Homo sapiens: one gene and its partners. The protein of the gene in region 5 purifies or fractionates together with the protein of the main gene of each other region. This does not show direct contact. Each region holds a gene or a part of one and is shown on either strand. Other genes may lie near its edges. The genes, in order: OBSL1, NFKBIL1, PBX1, NAMPT, DNAAF8, MEIS2 and RNF138.

Region 1 (3,500 bases), on a different chromosome or scaffold from region 5:
CAGGGCAACAGAGTGAGAGCCTGTCTCCAAAAAAAACAAGAAACAAAAAAGCAAGTGCAGAGTTATCTGAAACATGTCCCCTGGGCCACTGGACTCTCCCTGTAAAGGACTCCCCCAAGTAGGCAGCAGACCAGAGGGCATGGCTTATGCGGCCCCACAATCAGCCTTGGCTGGAGGAGCCCAGGCTGGCATGCTTCCTGACCTTGGACAGTGACGCCGAAGAAGGCCGAGACCCCTTCTGTCCTGCACTCAAACTCGCCACTGTCCTGGACTTTGGCCTCAGGCAGGATCAGACGGTGTTTGCGCCCATCCATCTTCACCACCAGCAACTCGCTCTCCTCCACCTTCTGCCCATCCTTGTACCAGGTTGCCGGGAAGTCCACCCTTGAGAGCTCACAAGTCAGCACCACCCGCTCTGAGGTTGTGAAGGTCAACGACACCCTGTCCTGGGGGCTCAGGATGTGCACCGGGCTCTCTGTGTGGGGAGAAGTACAGATAAGCACCCCTCCCTCCGGTGCATGGGCTCAGTGTCGGATGCATCAGAGGGAACAACTGCTGTTGTTGGGGTTTTTAAAAATAGGCTTAGGCTTCCACACCAACCCTTAAGAGCAGTGCTTTGGCTGTGCATAAGAATTCCTAGGGAGCCTGCTAAAAATGCAGAATTCTTGGATTCCCAAGCACGCAGGGGCCAGGAAATCTGCATTATAAACCAGCCCTCCAGGTGGTTCTGATGTCAGTGAACTGGGATCCCATTTTGGAAATGCTGCTCTGGTTGCTGGTCAGGTCTCACCTGGCCCCTCTGCCTGCGATGCTGACAGTGAATCACCCCAAGACCCCGTGCATGGGTGCCGACAGATTCCTTGATTGGTCTTACAAACTCCAGCAATGGTGACATGGCAAATGCTAGCGTGATCCTTGAACTTTGAGCGCCCCACCTCCAGCTGTTCTCCTCAGGGATGCCTCATTCCCCTCCTTCCCCCTTTCAACAGGTGGCACAGTGTGATCAGGAGCCCGACTGCCTGGGTTCATAATTCAGCACCTGTGCTCATTAGCTCCGTACTTTGAGCAAGTCACTTAACGTATCTGCCTGTTTCCCCAGCTATAAAATGGGAATGTCAAAAGAACCTATCTTAAGTTTGAGATAAGCCTGGCCAACATGGCGAAGCCCCATCTCTACTAAAATACAAAAACAAGCCGGGCATGGTGATGCATGTCTGTAGTCCCAGCTACTCGGGAGGCTGAGGCAGGAGAATCTCTTGAACCCACAAGGTGGAGGTTGCAGTGAGCCGAGATCGCGCCATTGCACTCCAGCCTGGGCGACAGAGTGAGACTCTATCTCAAAAAAAAAAAAAGAACCTATCTTATAGGGCCATTGAGAAGATTGTGTTAATGTATGTAAGGTGATTAGGACTGCGCCTGGCACGTAGAAAGTTGCGATGACAATGTCAACAATTAGACAACATGGCAGGAGGCAGGCAGGGACTAGCAGCCAGGGTCTGTGTCTTTCAAATGAGATGACAAATCTGACAGGATTCTGTAAACCACAAAGCACTCCAGAGAATTGGGATATGATGCTGACATATATCAAGATAACAAGGGGTGCCCTGGATGTTGCATGTGGGTTGAAATTGGCCTTCCGGACCTCTGAGCCCTCAACCTCAGCCCATCATGGATGCTCCTTGCTCTCCTGGCCCAGATACAAGAAATAAAAACAGCATCTGCCTCGTTTTGCCAACAGGACTTCTGTGTCTTGACCCTTTCTGCCCACTCAGGTCCCCACTGGCACCAACCTTGGATTGTGAGGGCAGCTGAGTCCTGCACGCCGGGGCAGCTGAAGCCGACCAGGGCACCGCTGTCCTGGTGCTTGACGGCATGCAGGATGAGTCTGTGCTGCAGACCCTTCTGCTCTATACGGTACCGCAGGGCCCCAGGTTCCACCTGGCCCTCCGGCTCGTTACTCTTGAGCTCTTCCCCATTAAGGAACCAGGTACCCTGGATGATGGTGGAGAGATCGAGGGAGAAGACGGCATCTTCCCCGTCGTATACCTGCACATCCTCCAGACCTGCCACCAGGCGAGCTGTGGGCACTGAGGCAGGGACAGAGTGCAGCTGTCAGAACTAGAAGGTGTGGCAGAGGGCAGAGGCTGGCGGATGGCAAGCCTGTGAGAGGACCAGCACTGAGGGCTGGGGAAGGGAGGAGAAGTGATGGGTGGGTCTGGCAGGACCAACTCACCAAGGTGAGCAGAACCGTGGAACACCACGTGGGGACTACGGCCATGTCCGCTGACTGTGCAGATGCGGAAGCGGTAGTCACCCTCGGAGGGCACACAGTCGCCCGGCACCTCCACGGCTCCGGCTTTCTCGATGCTGAAGCACTGAATCCAGTCTTCAGAGCCCACTTCCTGCCGCTCCAGCCGGTAGATGAATGGGGTCTCGGGAGCTGGCTCGGGAGGCTTCCAGGTCAACAGGACCGTGTTCTTGTGGCCCTTGAACATCTCTGCCAATATGGGGGGTCCTGGGGGACTGTGCTTGACACCTGAGACCAAGGCAGGGATGTGTTCCGGCCTTGCTTGGGCCTCCACAGCCCTTCCACCTTAAATCTACTTCACCAACCCAGCTCCGGCATCTGGCCAACCTCCTGCCCTGCCTCGCCTGTCCAGAGGCCTTCCTGCCCTCACATTTTACTCTGAGAAGCGTAGTGGTACGGGAGTTGCCCAGGCTAAAGGTGACCTCGCCAGCATCCTCTCGGGTGACCCCTGGAAGGACCAGGGCATGCATGTGGCCTGAGCTGCTCTGGCAGATGACCGGCAGCTCCTCCCCATCACGGCTCCAGCGTCCCTCGACCCCGGCCTCTAGAGTTTCCACTAGCAGCACAGCATTCTCTCCTTCCAGGACGTCGAGCTTCCGGGGCAGGCGCTTCAGGATGGGCCCTGAGATGCGGACAGGAATCCATCAACCTGGAATCTGAGCACCTGCCTGCCTCCGCCTCAGCCTCTTCCCCACGGGCCAGCTGACCTTTGACTGTGACGTTGGCCACGGTGCGCACCCGGCCCCGCATCTCGCACAGGTAGATACCATCATCGTCTGCCTTCAGCCTGTGGATGATGAGGCGCCGGACAGTGCCCTCTTCGATCTGCTCGTACTTGCGGCAGGGCAGCAGCCGCTGGTCCTCACGGAACCAGGCCGTGGGGATGCGGGAGTTGGGTACTTTACATTCCAGCACGGCAATCCCGTGCTCACGGCCCTCCACGTCCTGCAGGGGCCGTGTGAACCGGAGGCGGGGCTCTGTGGAGAGGGGAGAGAGAGACAAGAGAGGGCTCTGGAGAAGGCCCAGACTAGGAGTAGGATACCTAGAAGCGCATTAGCTCATGCTGTGTGCTCTTCATGCAGAGCCAGCGGGCACTGTGGAATCACAGAAAACTACCAGAAGGGAAGTGGTGGTTCCTAAGATGACCTGAGTTCTCATCCAGCCCTGACACTAGCCACATCACCTTAAGCAA
Region 2 (3,500 bases), on a different chromosome or scaffold from region 5:
TAAATCTATATCAATATATTATTTTCTGACTTTTTATTTCACTTCACTCTTAGGAAGGCTCTATTTTAAGATTATAAAACATTCTCTGCATTTTCTTCTACTACTTTAGATGTATACTCATTTTTATTTTTAGAAATTAAAAAACTCGGCCAGGCGCGGTGGCTCATGCCTGTAATCCCAGCACTCTGGGAGCCCAAGGTGGGTGGATCATGAGGTCAGGAGTTCAAGACCAGTCTGGCCAAGATGGTGAAACCCCGTCTCCACTAAAAATACAAAAATTAGCCTGACGTGGTGGCGGATGCCTGTAATCCCAGCTACTTGGGAGGCTGAGGCAGAGAACTGCTTGAACCCGGGAGGCAGAGGTTGCAGTGAGCCAAGATTGCGCGACTGGACTCCAGCCTGGGTGACAGAGTGAGACTCTGTCTCAACAACAACAAAAAAGAAATTAAAAAACTCTCAAAAATACAAAGTATAATACAATACACAACCCCATTCCTACCACAGGGTTTGTTAATGTACTGTCATGTTTGTAGTATAATTTATTTTAAGGAAATAAAATCATCACAGATAAAGGTAGTTTACCGTGATACCGCCTTCCAAGTTTCATTCCTCCCCAGGCCATCTGTCCCATGAATTTGGTGTGTACCTTCCTGTCATATTCAGGTATTTAATCTGCTGGAATTTACTTTTTGATTAGGTGTGAGGTGGGACTCTTGTTTTTCCCTAGATGAGCCAAATGTTCCAATATTATTTATAAAATAGTTCACCTGGTCAGGCACAGTGGCTCATGCCTGTAATCCCAGCACTTTGGGAAGCTGAGGTGGGTGGATCACCTCAGGTCAGGACAGGAGTTTAAGACCAGCCTGGCCAACACGGTGAAACCCCCATCTCTACAAAAATACAAAAATTAGCTGGGCATGATGGCAGGTGCCCAGCTACTCAGGAGGCTGAGGCAGGAGAATTGCTTGAACCCGGGAGGCGGAGGTTGTAGCAAGCTGAGATTGCGCCATTGCACTCCAGCCTGGGTGACACAGCGAGACTCTGTCTCGGAAAAAAAAAAAAAAAAAAGTTCACCTTTCTCCAGTATTAGAAATGCCCCCTTTAGGCCTGGCGCGGTGGCTCACGCCTCTAATCCCAGCATTTTGGGAGGCCGAGGCGGGCGGATCATGAGGTCAGGAGTTCGAGACCAGCCTGGCCAACACAGTGAAACCCTGTCTCTACTAAAAATACAAAAAATTAGCTGGGCGTGGTGGCGGGCGCCTGTAATCCCAGCTACTTGGGAGGCTGAGGCAGGAGAATGGCTTGAACCTGGGAAGCGGAGCTTGCAGTGAGCCGAGATCACACTACTGCACTCCAGCTTGGGCGACAGAATGAGACTCCATCCCCCACTTCGCCAAAAAAAAAAAAAAAAAAAAAAAAAAAGAAATGCCGCCTTTATAGCGATTTACCAGATCAACCGTTCTCAATGCTCTTTAATACGCTGGAGTTTCATACTAAGAAAAATAAACATAAAAACATTTTGGCCAGGCGCTGTGGCTCACGCCTGTAATCCCAACACTTTGGGAGGCTGAGGTGAGCAGATCACAAGGTCAAGAGATCGAGACCATCCTGGCTAACATGGTGAAACCCCGTGTCTACTAAAAATACAAAAAATTAGCCAGGCGTGGTGGCATACGCCTACAGTCCCTACGCCTATAGTCCCAGCTACTTGGGAGGCTGAGGCAGGAGAATCTCTTGAACCTGGGAGGTGGAGGTTGCAGTGAGCCGAGATTGTGCCACTGCACTCCAGCCTGGGCGACAGAATGAGACTCCTTTTCAAACAAAACAAAACAAAACAAAACAGAAAACAAAAACAAAACCAAAAGACATTCTGTGGGATGGGCACGGTGGCTCATGCCTATAATCCCAACATTTTGGGAGGCTGAGGTGGGTGGATCACTTGAGGTCAGGAGTTTGAGACCAGCCTGGCCAACATGTTGAAACCCCATCTCTACTAAAAACACAAAAATTAGGTCGGGCATGGTGGCTCATGCCTGTAATCCCAGCACTTTGGGAGGCCGAGGCAGGTGGATCATCTAAGGTCAGGAGTTCGAGAGCAGTCTGGCCAACATGGTGAAACCCCATCTCTATTAAAAATACAAAAGTTAGTCGGGCATGGTGGCAGGCTCCTGTAGTCCCGGCTACTCAGGAGGCTGAGGAAGGAGAATCACTTGAACCCAGGAGGCGGAGGTGGCAGTGAGTCAAGATACTGCCACTGCACTCCAGCCTGGGGAACAGAGGGAGACTCCGTCTCAAAAATAAATAAACAAATAAAAATTTAAAAATTAATAAATAAAAATAAAAAAATTAGCTGGGCATGGTGGTGTGTGCCTGTAATCTCAGCTACTTGGGAGGCTGAAGCAGGAGAATCGCTTGAACCCAGGAAGCAGAAGTTATAGTGAGCCGAGATCATGCCACTGCACTCCAGCCTGGGCGACAAAGCAAGACTCCGTCTCAAAAGGAAAAGAAAAAGGAAGCTGGAAGCTGAATGAGATGGGCCTTTCAACCAAGGAGTTAGAAGGCCATCTGGTGGCAGGGCTGGCAGAGGACCAGGAGTAAATAAGGCCAGAGAGGACACCAGGGTCTGGGAGTGAAGGCACTGAGCTTGGGTCCCCCTTTGGAAGACAATGACCTGAGAGCTGTGAGATTTCAGACAAGTTCCCGAACCTTTTGGGCCCTGCTTTCCTCATCTGTAAATGGGATAATATCAGTCTCACCAGCTTCTTAAAATTCAATACAATGGAGTTGGGTGTGGTGGCTCACGCCTCTAGTCCCGGCACTTTGGGAAGCCGAGGTGGGCAGACTGTTTGAACTCAGGAGATGCAGAACAGCCTGGATAACATAGCAAAACAGTCTCTACCAAAAATACAAACAATTAGCTGGGCATGGTGGTGTGTGCTTGTAGTCCCAGCTACTAGGGAGGCTGAGGTGGGAGGACTGCTTGAGCCCACGAGGTAGAGGCTGCAGTGAGCCATGATTGCACCACTGCACTCCAGGCTGGGAGACAGAATGAGACCCTGTCTCAAAACAAACAAGCAAACAAACAATAAAGGAAATCCCTACCACACTATCAGGGGCATTTTGGCTGAGCGCGGTGGCTCACGCCTGTAATCCCAGCACTTTGGGAGGCTAGGCTGGCAGGTCACCTGAGGTCGGGAGTTTGAGACCAGCCTGACCAACACGGAGAAACCGTCTCTACCAAAAATACAAAATTAGCCGGGCGTGATGGTGCATGCCTGTAATCCCAGCTACTTGGGAGGCTGAGGCAGGAGAATCTCTTGAACCCAGGAGGCAGAGGTTGAGGTGGGCTGAAATCGCGCCATTGCACTCTAGCCTGGGCAACAACAGGGAAACTCCATCTCAAAAAAACAAAACAAAACAAAAAACAAAACTCCCATTTTTGCGAGGCAAATTGGGCTCACAGAGGTAAGCTGCATGTCCCTGTTGATGGCAGAGCTGGG
Region 3 (3,500 bases), on a different chromosome or scaffold from region 5:
CAGAAAAAGTATAGGCCTCCTGATAAATAAGGAAAAACAAGGGCCAGAGAAAACCTCCCACCTTCTTGCAGGTTAGCTGGTGACTCTGCTGATCACCTATAGCGCCCGGATGAGAGCCAGGCCTGCACATCACAGACACACGTTCTGGAGTCCAGGTATGGAGTGTTCCTTCTATGCACGATTTATGTTTCCTTGAAATCATTTACAGCGTCACACATTTTTTAATGCCTTTACCTCCATTGAATGCCTAGGTTTTTAACAGTTGAGACCAGGACTTGGCAGACTCAAGTTTGGCCAGGGCTCTGTGGCTGGGCAGGGGATGCCGGGCACAGGGATGCCAGCACCTGGGAAAGGTGAGCCGCTCCTCTCTGCAAGCCCCGGGGTTGTGCTTCCTCCACCCTTTCCTAAAGGGCCTGGGTGCCGAGCCCCAGGTGGTTCTGGTTACCTGCTCGTATTTCTCCAGCTCCGTATGGTAGATTTGTCTGATCTGTGAGAGTTTGGCTCTGTAATCTGAATGCTCCACTGAGTTGTCTGAACCTGCCCCTCCAGAAGCCGCCGCCGCTGCCGCCGCTGCCGCCGACCCTCCGCCCTTCTCAGGCCCCGCCACGCCTTCCGCTAACAGCATGTTGTCCAGCCGCATCAGCTGGGGGTCTGTGGGTTCCTCCTCCTGGGCTCCTCGGATACTCAAAACTACAGAAAAAGACAGGGAAGGGAGCGTTAATAGTAACCCAAGAAAGAAAATAAAAAACACAACACATTTGTGTTCTTTGGCTACATAAGCTGCCAAGTTACTTGCAAGATGCCATTTGAGGAATAGAAGAAAGGCTGGAAAAAGAGAGAAACTGAGAGGGTGAGAAAATGAAGGAGGGACTTGCTTTGTTCCAAAATTACACTCCACTTGTATGTGGAATCTCGAATAATCAAATTTATAAGAGGCAGAAAGTAGAATAATGGGTACCATGAGTTGTGGGGAGGAGTGGGGAGCTATTGTTTAATGAGCGCAGAATTTCACTTTGGGAAGCTGAGTTTTTGAGATGGCTGCAAAATAATACTCAACTGTACACTTAAAAATAGTTTAAAATGGTAAATTCGGCACTTTGGGAGGCTGAGTGGGGGGTTGATCACGAGGTCAGGAGATCGAGACCATCCTGGCAAACATGGTGAAACCCCGTCTCTACTAAAATACAAAAAATTAGCCAGGCGTGGTGGTGCGTGCCTGTAGTCCCAGCTACTCGGGAGGCTGAGGCAGGGGAATCCCTTGAACCCAGGAGGCGGAGGCTGCAGTGAGCTGAGATCACGCCACTCATTGCACTCCAGCCTGGGCAACAGAGCAAGACTCCACACCCCCACCCCCCAAAAAGGTAAATTCTATCTTATATATATTTTACCACAATAAAAAATTTCAACTAGAAAAATGTAATCATAACAAAATATATTTTTTACTTTCATCCCCATACTACCTAATTTCAATTTAAGGAAAAGCATTTCCCTCTTTATTTCTCCTTTTAAATTTCCATAAGTCTGTGGTTGTGCACTCATTGCCTTTCTTTGCAATGCTTGATCAGTCTAAATTTTTCATTTCCAAAATCACCTGAAGTACACAAATCCAGTACATGTGGAACGAAATCTTCAGACCTTTCCTGTGGACTAGCAGAGAGTGAGGTCTAACATAGCAAGAAGACAAATTGGCCCTTGAGCAGGGTCGTTTAGCTCCAAACATTGAGATCTATGTGTTCCGAGTGATAAGGACTCTGTCCTGTTGGAAACAAGGGTGAGGTCCTTTTAACAAGCTGTCTCCAGGGTTTCAGGGAAGCCAGTGCTCTGGTAGGATGGCGTCTCAGATCAATGAGATGGCTGATCTTTATGAAAACACCAGGACCCTTGGTGGTGATTTGGACTGAAGGAGATCCAGTGATTTAGTAAATCAGCAGAAGAGCGAGACAGTCTTTTTTACTACCCCTTCAGACAACCTCCCATAAAATAAATCACTCATCTAAATCCAGTTCAGTTGTCAGCAGCCAAGTCTTTGTTAAGAGGGAACATAAAAAGTGTTTTCAATTTTTAAGAAATTGAAAAGAATGTGTGGGTAGGGTGGGAAAGAGGGAAGTGATTAAAGGCAGAGGAGAGGGGTCCGGTGTTGGTTGACATTTTGGGGATGGAGGTGGCAGGGTCTAAGTCCCTGGTGGATATCCACACACCAGAGCACAGTCAAGAGCTGTTTTCATGGCAGAGTGCATCTGGTGAGCCCCAGGGGGACAGTGCCAGTTCCAGGTGTCTCCCAGCCCTGGCAAAGCAGGGCTTCGGGTTGTAACAGGGAAGGTGAAGATGAGCTCAATGAGGGTATGTCTAGATGTTTGAGCGTCATCACATATAATACCAGCATAACTGCTGGCTGTGCCCACATGCTCCTGGCTGCCAACAGGCAGCAAAAGAACCAACCCTGAACGTTGTTCAGAAGGAAATCCCAATTCCTAGGCCAAAAGGAAAACTACAGTATGGCTCTCACAAAACACGAGACCATCAAATGGAATGGCGAGCCATGTGGATCAGTGGTGGCCATAAAGAGCAAAGAGGACAAAAGGTGCAGGGCAGAAGCTTGGGCTCCGTGGTGAAGTAAAAAAGGATGAGAGGAAGGAAAGGAGGGAGGGAGGAGGGAGAGCAGGTAGCTGGGAAGGAGAAAAGAAGGAAGCCTGCACCCTAGACGCAAACCACAACACTACCACGTCATGATCTTCTCTCTTCAAACCTGAATATGTAATATTCTGCTACACAAAAACAAAATTGCCATAGTGGTGACGGCAAAAGGTTAGGAGGTCATTGAGGTTTATTTTGTGGACTTTTTTTTCCAATAAAATCCTTCCTTTGTAGGCTCAGGAGACTGAATGGGAAACTGCTCCTTTGGCTGATCTTTGCACAATAAGGATTTAGTCACGTTATTGTTTCTTAAATTTATTTACTTAAATCTCCGAAGCACTCTGAAGAACAAATTGCCACTAACAAAGGTTTCCTTAAGAAAGTAGATGGCTGCTGTAACCATGCCCTGAATACCAGGCCCTAAAGGCACCGAAAAGAATCTCGGGGCATCCAAACATCTGGCAGCAGCGCCCAGCAGCCTCTCCTTCACCTCTATGTGGTTGTTTCTCTTTATATGATAAATTTTAATAGCCTTATCCACAAAGAAATTTATGGGTCATTTACAAATTAGAAAAAAAAAAGAATCGCCTCTGAGCCATTAATAAATATAGTTGTTTCACTTTAGCTCGATTATTCAAAACATTGTGCTGGGGCAAAATTCTACTCTCTCATTCGCTCACTGAATCTCATGTCCAATATACTTCCTTCAGAAGAGGCCGTAAGCCCCCACGGCTGGCAGGAACATTCCCCACGAAGCTGAGGCTGGTAACCCTTCAGCTGGGTGTTAATGCCTTCAAGTGGGTCCACCTGGCTACTCCACACCCAACTGGTCCTGCATGCGGCCCAACACTGAGAGATTTTAGGAC
Region 4 (3,500 bases), on a different chromosome or scaffold from region 5:
GCATTTTTTGGGTACATAGCTGGTACTTAATCAATATGTTATTTCAGTCCTAAATATTAATTTAGTTTTAGTATACGGTATAGACTATTTAAAACCTTTATTTAACTGTACCTTTTTTTTGAGTGTATTATTAGTTAATGGCCCATAAAAAGTCTATTAATTTCCTGTCAACTTAGCAAAATGTGTTTCAAACACCCTCTTGGACCTCTTATATTTCGATGTTTTCCAATTTTTATAAGTGAGCCTCAAATGTACTATTTTACAATATAATAGCAAATTACTTTAACCGATAAACTAATTAGTCAGTTCTAAGAACTAAGTAAATGCCACCAGATAGTAAGGTGTTATTTCTATAGTAACTTTCGAGGGTATTTCCTCTCACGGATTAAATCTATTATTAAACTGTTCAGAAGCTAGGTAGAGTATTATTATCAAAACTCTGACCATGTGAAAACATATGACTACTTAGGTATACATACAAGAAAAACAAAAAAAAGGCTCGCAGTATAAACCCAAAGCCCAAAATGTACCCTTCCTGAGAAATTAAACAATATGAACAGCAGATCTTGTTTTATTTAGATGAGAAACTGAAAAGTAACAGATGGTAGATCCTAAGACCTAAACTGATGAGAGAAAAATGAAGAAAGTAGTTACTAGAAGTTGGAATAAAGTTCCTTTAGTCTAACTTGAACATTTATCATTCATCGAATGTCGTAAGTTACTAGAAATGTGCTGTTTTTCTAAGTTTGCTCTAAAATAATACACACTTAAAATGGCAATGAATTAGATGAAAGCCAACTAGGTTTTAAAAACAATCACTCTCAATAATTTGATTTAAACAAAATCTCAGAACATTCTATTCTACTAGAAGAAACCTTAAAGATTATTTAGTCTGTCATTTTATAGATGAGGAAATTGAAGCCTGGAAAGGTTAAGTAAATTATAGGAGATTATATAGCTTTATTAGTAACAAATTCTAAACTGTAATCTCAGTTCAATGGTCTTTATTCAATTAATGTTAAATAAGAATTAAAAAAACAATTTACCTCAATCCAATTTGTAAGCCAGTAACACTCTGGATCTGTGTTTTCCACCGTGAAGAGAACATTTCCTCTGGGAATGACAAAGCCCTCAGGAACAGCTTTTATTTCTATTGGAAGATGCCCATCATACTTCTGGCAGGATAAAATGATAAATTTATTTATTCAACAGATGATACTCAATTCCCTGCTGTTTTACTAAAGGTTCTTTACGTTTTATAGAAGCTAAATTTACTGTCATAGAAATTGCAATTGTAGATGTTACTGTAATCTAGTCAGAATATCCTTATCCTTCTAAAATAAAACTAGTTAAAATTATTAACATACGTACTGATATTAATTTTTAAGTTTAATGCTGCCACGTGCTTCTGCTAAGAACATTTATCACTACAAGTGGCAGAAAATTCCAAACTCATCAAAACCAAACTGTTGCTTCTTCCCTGCTTTTTCAGAAAATGAGAAAGGATGACTTTATTCCAACATATTCTAAAAGTATTCCAAGAACACTACCTTTATTCTAAATTCGTTATTTTCACAAAATAAAGGCTGCAGATTGAAAGATAAAGGATTGCTATTAAAGAACAAAAGAAAACAAAACGAGAGAGAAGGAGAGCTAGGGAAATCCCTGCAGAAGAACCGAAATAGGTTCCCTCTATTCTGGTCGTGGACCTGAAACTATGAGACAGGCCAAACACAGAATCTTGGCAATTAACACTCGAGTATGACTTAACTGACTTCCTCTTAATGTAATAATTGCCTCCAAAATTAGGCTGAAGGTTATTTGTTATGTGACACTGTACCTCCCTTTTAAAGCTAAGAGCTGTGCCTAACTTTTCACTAGGAAGGCAAGCTGTTTCAGAAATCCTGATAATTTATTTATGTGATTTGGGACAAGGTAATTAAATACAAGAAAAATCTGTTTAATACAAGCACTGGAGGCACAGTGTATAGCAAAAAGAACATTGCCCTACAGGTCCTAGTTTGGACTCAAAAGCAGCGGGGAGACCCTGGACTAGTCACTTGCCATCTCTCGGTCTCAGATTCTGTTTGTAAAATGGGGTTAGACCAGATTATCTCTAGAGAACCTTTAGTTCCCCAAGATTTTCTGATCATATAATCAAACGACTTATTGCCCTGGCCACTGGACAGTATAGTAATAAGCATAGTACCTAACTTATTACTGTATTTATCCTTACAACAAACCTCACAGAAGAGAAATGGAGCAAGTACAGGTGATAGCTCACAGATTCTATTGACCTTATTTAAGATACAGGAAAAGTGCAGCACAGAGTACTTACCTGACTTTTTCAAGACCCATAAGTACCAAATAGTATAGCTCAGTATTGTCATATAGGCATGAAAGTTAAAGTATTTCTAATTATTCTGTGTTTGACAGTCTTTTCAATGTAAGAAACTTTCGTTTGTGAGACTTAAAAGTAACACTCAACATCAAGATACGCCAACAGATTCCATTCCCAACTGATCATTGTAATAAAAGGAAACCACCACGGGATATTTAACTCTTATAATTCTATTACCATGTCTTTGAGTGCCTTAATATTTAGGCAATGAATTCAAACATACTAGATATAAATATAATACAATCAAGACTAAAAATCAACTTTGTGGATCAGCACCAAGCCATTCTCACTATACAGTGAGAAACTTCCCAGAATTATGTGTAGTGATAGACTCACAGCATCTATTTTCAGTCAAGAAAACAGACCTACATTTTGAAATTGCCAAATAACCATGCCCTTTCCTACCTATAGTGTATTTTCAAGAATGAATTATCTTTCTCAAAAATGTTATTTAAGTTATAATTCATTTTTATTAATTACTTAGACTTGCTGTAGATTCTATATGCTAATGATTTAACATGGGGGATGCGGGGAGAGGGATAAAATGTCAACCTTAACTTTTCAAAAGGATATATTGGCTATAATATAACTTTTCAAAAGGATATATAATGGCTATGAAATAGCCATTATATTCAGATCACAAACAAAAAAGAACTGTAATGATACTCTAATCTCTTATTCAAATTCTGGCCGGGGATGGTGGCTCACACCTGTAATCCCAGCACTTTGGGAGGCCAAGGTGGGCAGATCACTTGAAGTCAGGAGTTTGAGACCAGCCTGGCCAACACAGTAAAACCCCATCTCTACTAAAAATACAAAAATTAGCCAGGTGTGGTGGTGCGTGCCTGTAGTCCCAGCTACTAAGGAGGCTAAGGCAGGAGAATAGCTTGAACCTAGGAAGCAGAGGTTGCAGTGAGCCGAGATTGTGCCACTGCACTCCAGCCTGGGTGACAGAGTGACACTTTCTCTCAAAAAACACAAAACAAAAACAAATTCCTTTGCAAGAAGTTTTGAACTGAAAGAAAAACCAAAACAGATCAAAAGATGAAACCATCTTTTACCTCAAGAATGTAGTTCCATCCCTTTTCATTAAAGACAT
Region 5 (3,500 bases):
TTAGCCAGGATGATTTCTTTTTTTTTTAGAGATGAGGGTCTCACTGTGTTGACCAGGATGGTCTTGAACTCCGGGGCTCCCGCCTCGGCCTCCCAAAGTGCTGGGATTACAGGTGCGAGCCGCTGTGCCTGGCCTCCTTTTCTCTCTTTAAGGAAGGCAGGCCCTGCTTGTTCTTTGTTCTTGTTAACCCTCCCCCAGGATGTGCTCTGCTGGGACCCTCCACCCCTCTACTGAGACAGGTACACAGAATGGTGGATAATGGGCCTAAGGTCCTAGTGGGCCAGCCCTCAAGCTGCTTCTAGCTCCAGTGCATGGGAACAGCAGCCATGCCACAGGTAACAGGCCTGAGAAACAGCCAGGCACGGGGAGGCGCCTACCTGGAGCGAGAGCACTGGTGGTCCCTCCGGAGGCTCCACGAGGGGCATTTTGGATCTGGGAGCTGACTCCGCAGCGTGGCAGGGCGCCTCCTTCACCCCACCTTTGTCACTGCTGGTCGGGCCGCAGGCATCCCGGGTGACTTTCTGGAGGATGTCCGTCTCTATCATCTTCCTTCTCTCCTGTCGGAGGGCCCGGCGGTTCACAGATTCTTGTGAGGCAGTGCTGAGGGGCTCTGCCTTTGGGTCTCCTTCATGGCAGGAGAGAGTGGCTTCGGCCTGTGGGTCCCAGGGAGGACCCTGGGATCCTTTGGTGTTGAAAGACAGGCTTCCAAGGTCGCCTTCCAGCCACCTGGGGGGCTCCTCGGCCATCCCAAGAAGAGCGCTGACCTCACCAGAGCTTTCAAAAGGCCTGCCAGGGTCTCTTCCTTCCTGAGAGGATGCATCCTTTGTCCTTGTGTTCTGTCTGCACCCAGGTTCTGTGGCCAATTCTGCAGGCACCAGAACTGGCTGTCAAGAAAACAGGTATGTTCAGTTAGCATCCTCAAAAACATGCTTCAGGGAATGTTTTTCATAGAAAAATATGTACTTTTTTTTTTTTTTTGAGGTGAAGTCTCGCTTTGTTGCCCAGGCTGCAGTGCAGTGGTGCGATCATAGCTCACTGCAGCCTCGACTTCCCTGGCCCAGGCGATCCTCCCACTTCAGCCTCCCAAGTAGCTAGGATGACAGGCACATACTACTAGGCCCAGTTAATTTTTTTTAATATTATTTTGTAGTGACAGAGTCTCTACAACATAGTTGGTCTTCCAGGCTTGTCTCAAGTTCCTGGCCTCAAGCTATCTTTCCTGCCTCAGCCTCCCAAAGTGGTGGGATTACAGGCACAAGCCACTGTGCCTGACCTCTTTTAACCATTTTTAACTGCACACTTCATTCTACTAAAAATACAAAAATGAGCCAGCACAGTGGCGTGCGTGTAATCCCAGCTACTTGGGAGGCTGAAGTGGGAGGATCGCTTCAGCCCGGGAGGTGGAGGCTGCAGTGAGCAGTGAGGGCACCATTGTATTCCAGCCTGGGTGACACAGCAAGATCCTGTCCCAAAAAAAAAAAAAAAAAAGTTGGAAAGCTACTGTTGAATATGGGCTGGCTAAAGACAGCACCACTGAGGCATCCTGCTATTTAAATACAAGGCTAGAGTGGAATGCACTGTTACAGCAATGAAACAATATTTAAATTATCAATCATGATAATGTTGGGGCTCAGAAATTCATACCCCAAGCTAGAGTACAAGTCATCCTTCCACCTCAGCATCCTGAGTAGCTGGGACCACAGGCACACCATCACACCCAGCTAATTTTTTAGTAGAGATCCCACATTACAAAAAAAAAAAAAAAAAAAAACAAGAAAAAATCATCCAGAAGAGTTTCTGAAGTAATTGATTGTAAAAATGAAGCAGCAAAATAAAATCACATGCAAATTGTTCCACCTGAACCCACCAGAGTTCTTAGCTGCCCTGGGGATCTCTCTTGTGTGGGGTTATTTCAAACCTAGGTCTAGGAATGGCTGGGCTGATGGGAGATTTCCTTCAAGGTGATGGGTGGGTGCATGTCCTGGTTCTGGGAGATGATCTGGTTCGGTGCCCATGCCCTCCCATTCAGTAGGTTAATTGTTCTCAGCAGAACACCTGAGAGAAGTTACGCTGGAGCTAGGCCCCGTCTCCATTTTGGAAGTGGGTTAGTGCCTCTACACTGTTTTCTTTTCTTTATTATTATTTTTTTTTTAGATGGAGTCTCACTCTGTTGCCCAGGCTGGAGTGTGCAGTGGTGTGATCTTGGCTCACTGCCATCTCTGCTCCCCCGGGTCCAAGCGATTCTCCTGTCTCAGCCTCTGGAGTAGCTGCGATTACAGGCACCTGCCACCATGCCCAGCTAATTTTTTTATTTTTAGTAGAGATAGGGTTTCACCATGTTGGCCAGGCTGGTCTCAAACTCCTGACTTCAAGTGATCCACCCATACTGGCCTCCTAAAATGCTGGGATTACAGGCGTGAGCCACTGTGCTCAGCCAGAAATGGGGTCTTGCTGTATTGCCCAGGCTGGTCTCAAACTCCTGGCCTCATGGGAACCTCTGTCTCAGCCTCCAGCACTGGCAACACAGGCCTGCGTTGGCACGCTTAGTCCACATTTGCTCATTGTCTCCTGGGTTGTCCCTCCCACGAGGTCCAGCTTGTGTGCTTGCTCAGGCACTGATGGGCCATCTTCCTCCCTCCCACTCCCCACTGTAGCCTGTAGCAGTGTAGTTTAGCAGTTTAGTAAACCAGAGTTCCTGTGTACTCGCCAGGTGCTGGGATGAGCCAGGTAGCCATGAAGCCAGCTGGGTTAAGGGAGAGACAATTAGGACAAGCAGTTGTGACAATGGCCAGAAGCTATTCAGGATGCCATGGTAGAGAACAGGATAGGAGCGATCAAGAAGAAGAGAAGGGTCAAAATCGGATGGAAAATCAAGCGTGCATGCCAGCCCTAAGGTGCCGGGCTCCCCAGGAGAGGGAGGTGCGTGGAGGTTAGATGTTGGGCATCTGAATACCTTGGGTTGTACATGGGGGAAAAAAAAAAGGACCATGTTCTAGCATATCGTGGAAATGCTAGAACAGTGGTTTAGACCAGTCAGTTTAGACTAACATCGCACACACACAGGCGTATACTCTTCTGTGTCCCACAGACCTCGGGAAGGGACTCTTCAGCTGCAGCGACCCAGGCCCTGGACTTGTCGCCATCGGCAGGATCTTCAGCCAGCTCCTCCGACAGGTCTGGAATCAGGGAGGTTTGGTTTCGCTGGAAGATGAACAGCTCCTCTTCCCCATAGTCCGACTGTGGACAAATGAGAGGGCTTTTGGAGGACAAGGCAGCAGGCAGAGCCCTGAGGGCCTAGCCACCCCCGCTCTCCACTCTCCACTCTCACTTCCAGCCCAGCCCGCCCAGCCCATCCAGCCCGTCCAGCCCTGCTGCTCAGGAGCCTGGGGGAGATCCGGTTCTCTCCCAGTCAGCCTTGCTGTGCGCGGCTTCTTGCCACCGTTTAGAAATGGGCTTGGCAGCACAACCTCGTGGAGGTGAGACTGGGGCTCCTGGTTCTG
Region 6 (2,923 bases), on a different chromosome or scaffold from region 5:
CGGACACCGGACTTTCTAACTGAGTGGCAACTTGTAGCGGAGGTCCAGGCTCCTTATCAAATTGCTGGCCTGCTAGCTAATGGAGAACTTGTGGAGGATCCCTGTCCAGTCCCTTTGAAGGAAGGTCCCTCCTTTGACAGCTGCTAGAGATATTAGCCACATTTCCCTTCCCAAATCTGCTCCGGGTTAACAGGCCCGCGGGGGCGGGAGGGGGTGAGGAGGCAGGAGGATCCTGGTGGACTCTAACGAGGGTGAGAGCTGAGGGGCGTGAGGGGTGCTGACCTAGGGGGTGGAAGAGAGGAGGGGTGGACGGAAGACACAGACTTTCCTGGTCTTTTCTCTCTTTTTCGTTTAAAATGTGGCTTCTTGCTCAATTCCCAACCCTTAACAGATGGCGACTGCAGTTCTCTCAGAATTTCTTAAAGAAAGGGAAACCTTTGGAATTTATTTCTGCTTTTGCTTTTTCATATAAATAAAAAAGTGTTTTTATATTACTCTTGTTTTGGAGAACATAAGCAATTTTATTCAGACTACAGTATTTCCTTTAACACTATATGGTTGTCAAAACACCATTCCCAGTTTCTTTGCTTTTGACAGCTGAGTCTTTCTTAAATATACCCAAATCGGAACTCTTTACACTAAATAGTAAACCCGAGATAGGAGCAAGTGCCTTCCGGGGTGGTGTAAAAAAAGCATTATAAAAATTGGACAAATCTATCACTTCTCTGTGTTATCATGGGGTTGGGGGTGGGGGAGAGCAAGGTAATGCAAACAAATATTACAATTATCATTCATCTCCAAATATTTAAGAAGGTTAAAGTTAACATGATAGGACGTGGGTTTGACGAATAAACTAAGCATGAGATGACTTTATTCATTAAAACCAAGAGTTGAGAGCTCTGGTCTCTAAACTTCAATGAGATAACTTGATAATTGCATAAAACACATCCTAAACACGAGCCAATTGCCAAGGAAACCCTTCAGAATTTACTGAGTGGAAAGAAAAAAAGGTTCTTTTTCCCACCTGATGTGAGAGTTGATTTATAATGGGGAATTTTCATAGTTTACATAAAAGTATTTAAAGTAAAAATAGGCAAATATTTAAAATTTACAAAAAGACTTCATGTAAAATAGAATAGCAAAAATGAGAGGGAAGCTATCTCTCTTTCCCAAGTGGCACTGAATTTCTCTATTAAGTTAGTTTGTGTCAGAAGCATTATTTCTATGTTTAAACAGCAACACAACACTTAAACTGAAATGTATTTGTAAAAATTCTACCTGACTAAATATAACACAAAACAATAGAAGTGTATTTCCTCGTTCATTTATATAGAACCTCCATAAATGCTGTCTGAAATGGAAAGATGGAAGAGCCCCAAATAATAACTATGGATTTCTTCCAAGTTTAAGTTTGCAGAGATGATGAATAATTTCCTTAGCCGGTTGACATCACATATCTAGCCAAAGTATATGACATTATTCTTTCTAAACAAAGATTCAAAATTTAAGAGTTAAAAAATTCCAGGATAGTATATTTATTTGAAAATTGAGGGGACATGCCTCACCCTTTTTGCACACTTTAGCAGACATTGTTTGTGCAGTATCAATAAGCTAATGGTATAGATTTCCAGGAATGTTGCATAAAATTTTGAAAATGGCATTATACCGTCCATTTTGTTTTGTTTTGTTTTCAGAAAAAAGTTTAAGTTTAGTTATCAAATCATCACACTAGCATCCCTGCACATGGATGTGTCTGAAATAAAAATATACCACAATATAATTTATAAAATATTAATGATTAAGTAATCTTTTAAAGTCAGAATTTCAAACTCCATAGAAGTTGTTTACTTATCTATGAACACCCATATGTAAATTTTCATTTACATATCCAACAATATTGTAGTAAGACAGGCAGAGGAAAAACACAGGCAGATAAATTACCTTTGAGCACAGACATTATTTCTTATGTTGTAAAATTAACCCTGAAAAGTCCTTTATTCTGGCAGAGGATGCCCATGAAAAGCTTTATCTGAAAGTATATATTTTTTAACGTCATGCATCTAAAAAGGAGGTTGAGCATGTTCAAGGGGATCTTTCAACCTGGCTCATCATGTACACATAGTTTCGTACCTTTAGAAGTTTTCTGCTGGTGGAACTTATAGGTCAAATAGACATTGAAAGGCTATAGATGATTACCTTAAAAATTATTGATGAGTTTAAAATATACTCAACTGCTGGGGGGAAAAACCTACTTTTAACACTGTATAGAGTTGGCATTGTGCAGTCTTGTCCTAAAACCATTAAAAACGCAAAAGCCTAACAAAAAATCAAAAATGAAATATTTATTACCGCTTTTTGTGACTTAACACCTTTTTTTTTTTAACATAACGTCACAGTCCTCATACAAGTATTTTAATGTAAATTTGACAAAGCTTAAAGGTAACAGCATTTTCTTCTAGTGAGGAACACGTGCTGAGAAAAGAAGAATTCATGGACATACAATACCAATTCCACAGCAGATCTGATACTAGCAAAAACATTCTTTTTTTTTTCAATTGAGGTAAACACATAGAATATCTAACATGAAACAATTAATAGACCGAACTCTGTACGAAGTTTGTTACAGTATTCTCTTGCTCCTTTTTATCCCCCAAGCTTTGAGTTTCTGATAAAGTCCTAGTTATGGTTCAATGACCATTAATAACTTTTTTTTGTGTTGAGGAAAGCTGCCCAACTTAAGATTGTTTTGTCCACAACCAAGGCTCAGAACTCCTGGAAGAAGCTCCTGCTCTGTCTTTAAATCTTCATTGGCAAGCTCTTTGAAGAAGAGTCCCCCAAAAATAATAATAAGAATTGGCTTATGAAGCACGAACTATAAAGATCTGTTTGAAACTAAAGGACACATTTATGGAGGAACAAAGGC
Region 7 (3,500 bases), on a different chromosome or scaffold from region 5:
ACATAAGTAAAGTGAGGAGCTAGAGAGTTCCTTAAACTACATAAATCCATGTGCCCAAACTAGTAACATTTCTATGTGTAAAGCTGCAATAATGATGCTACCATGAGAAAAACTTAAGGGGTGAATTTGTACCAGAATGGGGTTTAAATGAGCTAAATGCCAGCTTGCTAATTTAGTTACTTTAGCAAGTAATCAATGAGAAATTACTTTTAGAAAAATGCCACGCTAAGTATTATGAAATTCAGTGATTTTTTTTTCAGTCTCATTTCTCAGTAAGTTTATAATCTAGTAAGATCTATGACCACAGCTTTTTTTGGCCTTTTCTATCCAATTCCCAGTCTAAATACCTTTCATCTTTTCAAAAAAAAAAAAAACACCAACCAAGAAAATTCAAATAAGAATTTCAGAGTAGAAACTTGGCTTCCAAAGAAGAGAGATGTCACATTTACTCTACCTGTTTTGCACAGCATCTGCAGCTACCAGAAAACTTCCTCATTATATTTTCAAGGTCTAAGGCCCGTTCAGGACATGCTCTCTCTCTTCTAGTCACATTTCCACGACATAGGGGACAATGTGCTCCGCTTTCCCTCATTGCAGTCAGGAAACATTTTCTACAGAAACTAAACCAAACATTGTGACACATTAATTACAAAAAAAATTACTCTCTTCATCTCTATAATTAAATACAAACAAGTGATTATAAATATGTATTCATATTAAATAAGTTAGGCTACTCATATGTACATAAATCTCAGAAGTTTAGTAACTGTATATGTATTTATCAGAGAGTAAGACTGATAACTGGACTAGATGGGAATATTTGAACAATTACACTCAAGTCTGCTTTACAACTTCTTAACATAATATATGATGAATAAATATTAATGCTACATATTAATAATATTACTAGAGGAAGCATGGTACAAAGGAAAAACCGGATCCTGGCTCTGCCATTTAGTAGCTGTGTAATCTTAGGCCAACAAATTAACGCACACTGGATCTCCATTTCCTCCCCTTACAAAATAAAAGGATGAGTAACATAAGCTTTTGTCTCAAACTGATGTATATCGACATGTTGTTCCACAAGACATAAACAGGTCTACTACAAAAGAGCACACAAATTGGTTTGGGAAGTTCTAGGATAAAGTTAATAGGTTTTACCCAAAGTTAGGTGTTACCCAAAGTTATCTGCGTGTTAACAGATATTTGGTTATTTGGTCCGGAAGTAGGGAAATTTCCCAAACAGTATGCAATGGAACATAATTTGAGAAATACTTAAGAATACTTCCGGCTTTGCCGGGCACGGTGGCTCACGCCTGTAATCCCAGCACTTTGGGACGCTGAAGCAGGCGGATCACGTGGTCAGGAGATCAAGACCATTCTGGCTACCACGGTGAAATCTCGTCTCTACTAAAAATATAAAAAATTAGCCGGGCGTGGTGACAGGCGCCTGTAGTTTCAGCTACCCGGGAGGCTGAGGCAGGAGAATGGCATGAACCCAGGAGACAGAGGTTGCAGTGAGCCGAGATTGCACCACTGCACTCCAGCCTGGGCGACAGAGCAAGACTCCGTCTCAAAAAAAAAAAAAGATTAAACATTTATAACCAACTTTCTAATTAGAATCAAACTAAAATCTTTTTATCTTCTCTAGCCCCACCAAATACCTTATTTGATCATTTTGCTTTCAAGAGAACCAGTTAAATTACAGACATATATATCTGGGATCTAGAATACATATACATTTAATCCAATCTCCTATAAATATATATGAATATTCCTCCTCTATACTAACAGAAGTTGAGAGGAAATGGTGCAGTAACAGATCACATAACCTGAGTTTCCTAACTATGCAGCACTTTTAAACAAGTCAGTTTTTCCCTCTAATATCAGTTTCCTCACTCACGAAATAATAAAAGTATCTACAACTGATTCGGCTGTTCAGAGGATTAAAATAGATAACAAGTATAAAATGCTTAACACATTATTTGTCATGGTCAGGAAAGTGCTCAATAAATAGTAGTTAATATCATTAAAGCAGCACTAGAAGTCATTACCAATTAACACCATAAACTAAAACATTAGGCAGGGCGTAGTGGCTCATGCCTATAATCCCAGTGCTTTGGGAGGACAAGGCAGGAGGACAGCTTGAGGCAAGGAGTTGAAGACCAGCCTGGGCAACATAGCAAGACCCTGTCTCTACAAAAATTAAAAATAAAAAAAATTAGCTGGGTATAGTAGCATGCACGTCCAGTCCCAGCTACTCAGGAGGCTGAGGCGAAGGATCACTTGAGCCCAGGAGGTTGAAGCTGTAGTGAGCTATGAAGGTGCCACTGCATTCCAGCCTGGGTGACAGAGCAATACTGTCTCTCAAAAAACAATAACAATTAAAAATATTTACCATAGCCAGAAACCAAAATAACGCAAAGTAAACAAGATGCCAGTTTTCACTTGCCAAACTAAAAACTAGTTTTATTTATTTTATTTTTTTGAGACAGAGCCTCGCTCTGTCGCCCAGGCTGGAGTACACTGGTGCGATCTTGGCTCACTGCAACCTCTGCCTCCAGGGCTCAAGTAATTTTCCTGCCTCAGCCTACCCAGTAGGTGGGACTACAGGCATGCACCACTGCGACGGCTAATTTTTGTACTTTTTGTAGAGATGGGATTTTGCCAGTTGCTCAGGCTAGTCTTGAACTCCTGAGTTCAAGTGATCCAGCCATCTCAGCCTCCCAAAGTGTTGGGATTACAGGCGTGAGCCATGGTGCCCAGCAAAACTAGTTTTAAAAATAGTAAAAGTAACCAAATCTGGGCACAGCAGCATGTACCTGTAGTCTTAGCCACTTGGGAGGCTGAGGTGGGAGGGTCTCTTGAGCCAATGAGTTCAAGGCCCGCCTGGGTAACACAGCATGACCCTGTCTCTAAAAAAATAGTAATAATAAAACAATGGCCAGGCACAGTGGCTCACACCTGTAATCCTGCACTTTGAGAGGCTGAGCGGGGCAAATGGCTTAAGCTCACAAGACCAGCCTGGGCAACATGGTGAAACCCCATCTCTACTAGCCTGGCATGGTGGCACATGCCTGTAGTCCCAGCTACTCAGGAGGCTGAGGTGAGAGGATCACTTGAGCCTGTGAGGCAGAGGTTGCAGTGAGCTGAGATCGTGCCACTGCACTTCAGCCTGAGCAACAGAGTGAGACCTTGTTTAAAAAAAAAAAAAAAGAAAGAAAAAGACAAAAATGAAAACGGTGGGAAATACCAAGTGTTAGGGAGGATATGAACCAACCTAAACTCACATTGGAGGCTATGGGAGTATAAACTTTTACAACCATTTGGAAAACTGGGTGGCAATATCCATTAGAGCGCATAAATTCCACTCTGAAGTATATACCCATCAAACCTATATACATAAAACCATGGGCAGTGGCTTATGCCTATAATCCCAGCACTTTGGGAGGCCAAGGCGGGAGGATTACTTGAGGCCAGCCTGGACAACATAGTGAGAC

Evidence for each region.
Region 1: the proteins of DNAAF8 (region 5) and OBSL1 purify together in Homo sapiens (affinity purification with mass spectrometry; 2 studies listed by BioGRID and IntAct, with this or other methods). This does not show direct contact.
Region 2: the proteins of DNAAF8 (region 5) and NFKBIL1 purify together in Homo sapiens (affinity purification with mass spectrometry; one large-scale study listed by BioGRID and IntAct). This does not show direct contact.
Region 3: the proteins of DNAAF8 (region 5) and PBX1 purify together in Homo sapiens (affinity purification with mass spectrometry; 2 studies listed by BioGRID and IntAct, with this or other methods). This does not show direct contact.
Region 4: the proteins of DNAAF8 (region 5) and NAMPT purify together in Homo sapiens (affinity purification with mass spectrometry; one large-scale study listed by BioGRID and IntAct). This does not show direct contact.
Region 6: the proteins of DNAAF8 (region 5) and MEIS2 purify together in Homo sapiens (affinity purification with mass spectrometry; 2 studies listed by BioGRID and IntAct, with this or other methods). This does not show direct contact.
Region 7: the proteins of DNAAF8 (region 5) and RNF138 purify together in Homo sapiens (affinity purification with mass spectrometry; 2 studies listed by BioGRID and IntAct, with this or other methods). This does not show direct contact.

What each region holds. Positions count from the first base shown.
Region 1 is NC_000002.12:219,565,040-219,568,539, forward strand, and holds part of OBSL1 (obscurin-like protein 1 isoform 1 precursor), read right to left. Parts: intron 3,286-3,500; coding exon 3,016-3,285; intron 2,931-3,015; coding exon 2,679-2,930; intron 2,537-2,678; coding exon 2,234-2,536; intron 2,088-2,233; coding exon 1,791-2,087; intron 476-1,790; coding exon 203-475; intron 1-202. UniProt on the Homo sapiens protein: Core component of the 3M complex, a complex required to regulate microtubule dynamics and genome integrity. It is unclear how the 3M complex regulates microtubules, it could act by controlling the level of a microtubule stabilizer.
Region 2 is NC_000006.12:31,550,608-31,554,107, reverse strand, and holds part of NFKBIL1 (NF-kappa-B inhibitor-like protein 1), read right to left. Parts: intron 1-3,500. UniProt on the Homo sapiens protein: Involved in the regulation of innate immune response. Acts as negative regulator of Toll-like receptor and interferon-regulatory factor (IRF) signaling pathways.
Region 3 is NC_000001.11:164,789,684-164,793,183, reverse strand, and holds part of PBX1 (pre-B-cell leukemia transcription factor 1), read right to left. Parts: intron 691-3,500; coding exon 446-690; intron 1-445. UniProt on the Homo sapiens protein: Transcription factor which binds the DNA sequence 5'-TGATTGAT-3' as part of a heterodimer with HOX proteins such as HOXA1, HOXA5, HOXB7 and HOXB8. Binds to the DNA sequence 5'-TGATTGAC-3' in complex with a nuclear factor which is not a class I HOX protein.
Region 4 is NC_000007.14:106,271,484-106,274,983, forward strand, and holds part of NAMPT (nicotinamide phosphoribosyltransferase precursor), read right to left. Parts: coding exon 3,463-3,500; intron 1,176-3,462; coding exon 1,047-1,175; intron 1-1,046.
Region 5 is NC_000016.10:4,737,537-4,741,036, reverse strand, and holds part of DNAAF8 (dynein axonemal assembly factor 8), read right to left. Parts: intron 3,238-3,500; coding exon 3,091-3,237; intron 885-3,090; coding exon 378-884; intron 1-377. UniProt on the Homo sapiens protein: In cyliated cells, dynein axonemal particle-specific protein required for deployment of ODA to the axoneme. Interacts with outer dynein arm (ODA) subunits.
Region 6 is NC_000015.10:36,888,704-36,891,626, forward strand, and holds the end of MEIS2 (homeobox protein Meis2), read right to left. Parts: 3' UTR 501-2,923; downstream 1-500. UniProt on the Homo sapiens protein: Involved in transcriptional regulation. Binds to HOX or PBX proteins to form dimers, or to a DNA-bound dimer of PBX and HOX proteins and thought to have a role in stabilization of the homeoprotein-DNA complex.
Region 7 is NC_000018.10:32,108,874-32,112,373, reverse strand, and holds part of RNF138 (E3 ubiquitin-protein ligase RNF138), read right to left. Parts: intron 621-3,500; coding exon 455-620; intron 1-454. UniProt on the Homo sapiens protein: E3 ubiquitin-protein ligase involved in DNA damage response by promoting DNA resection and homologous recombination.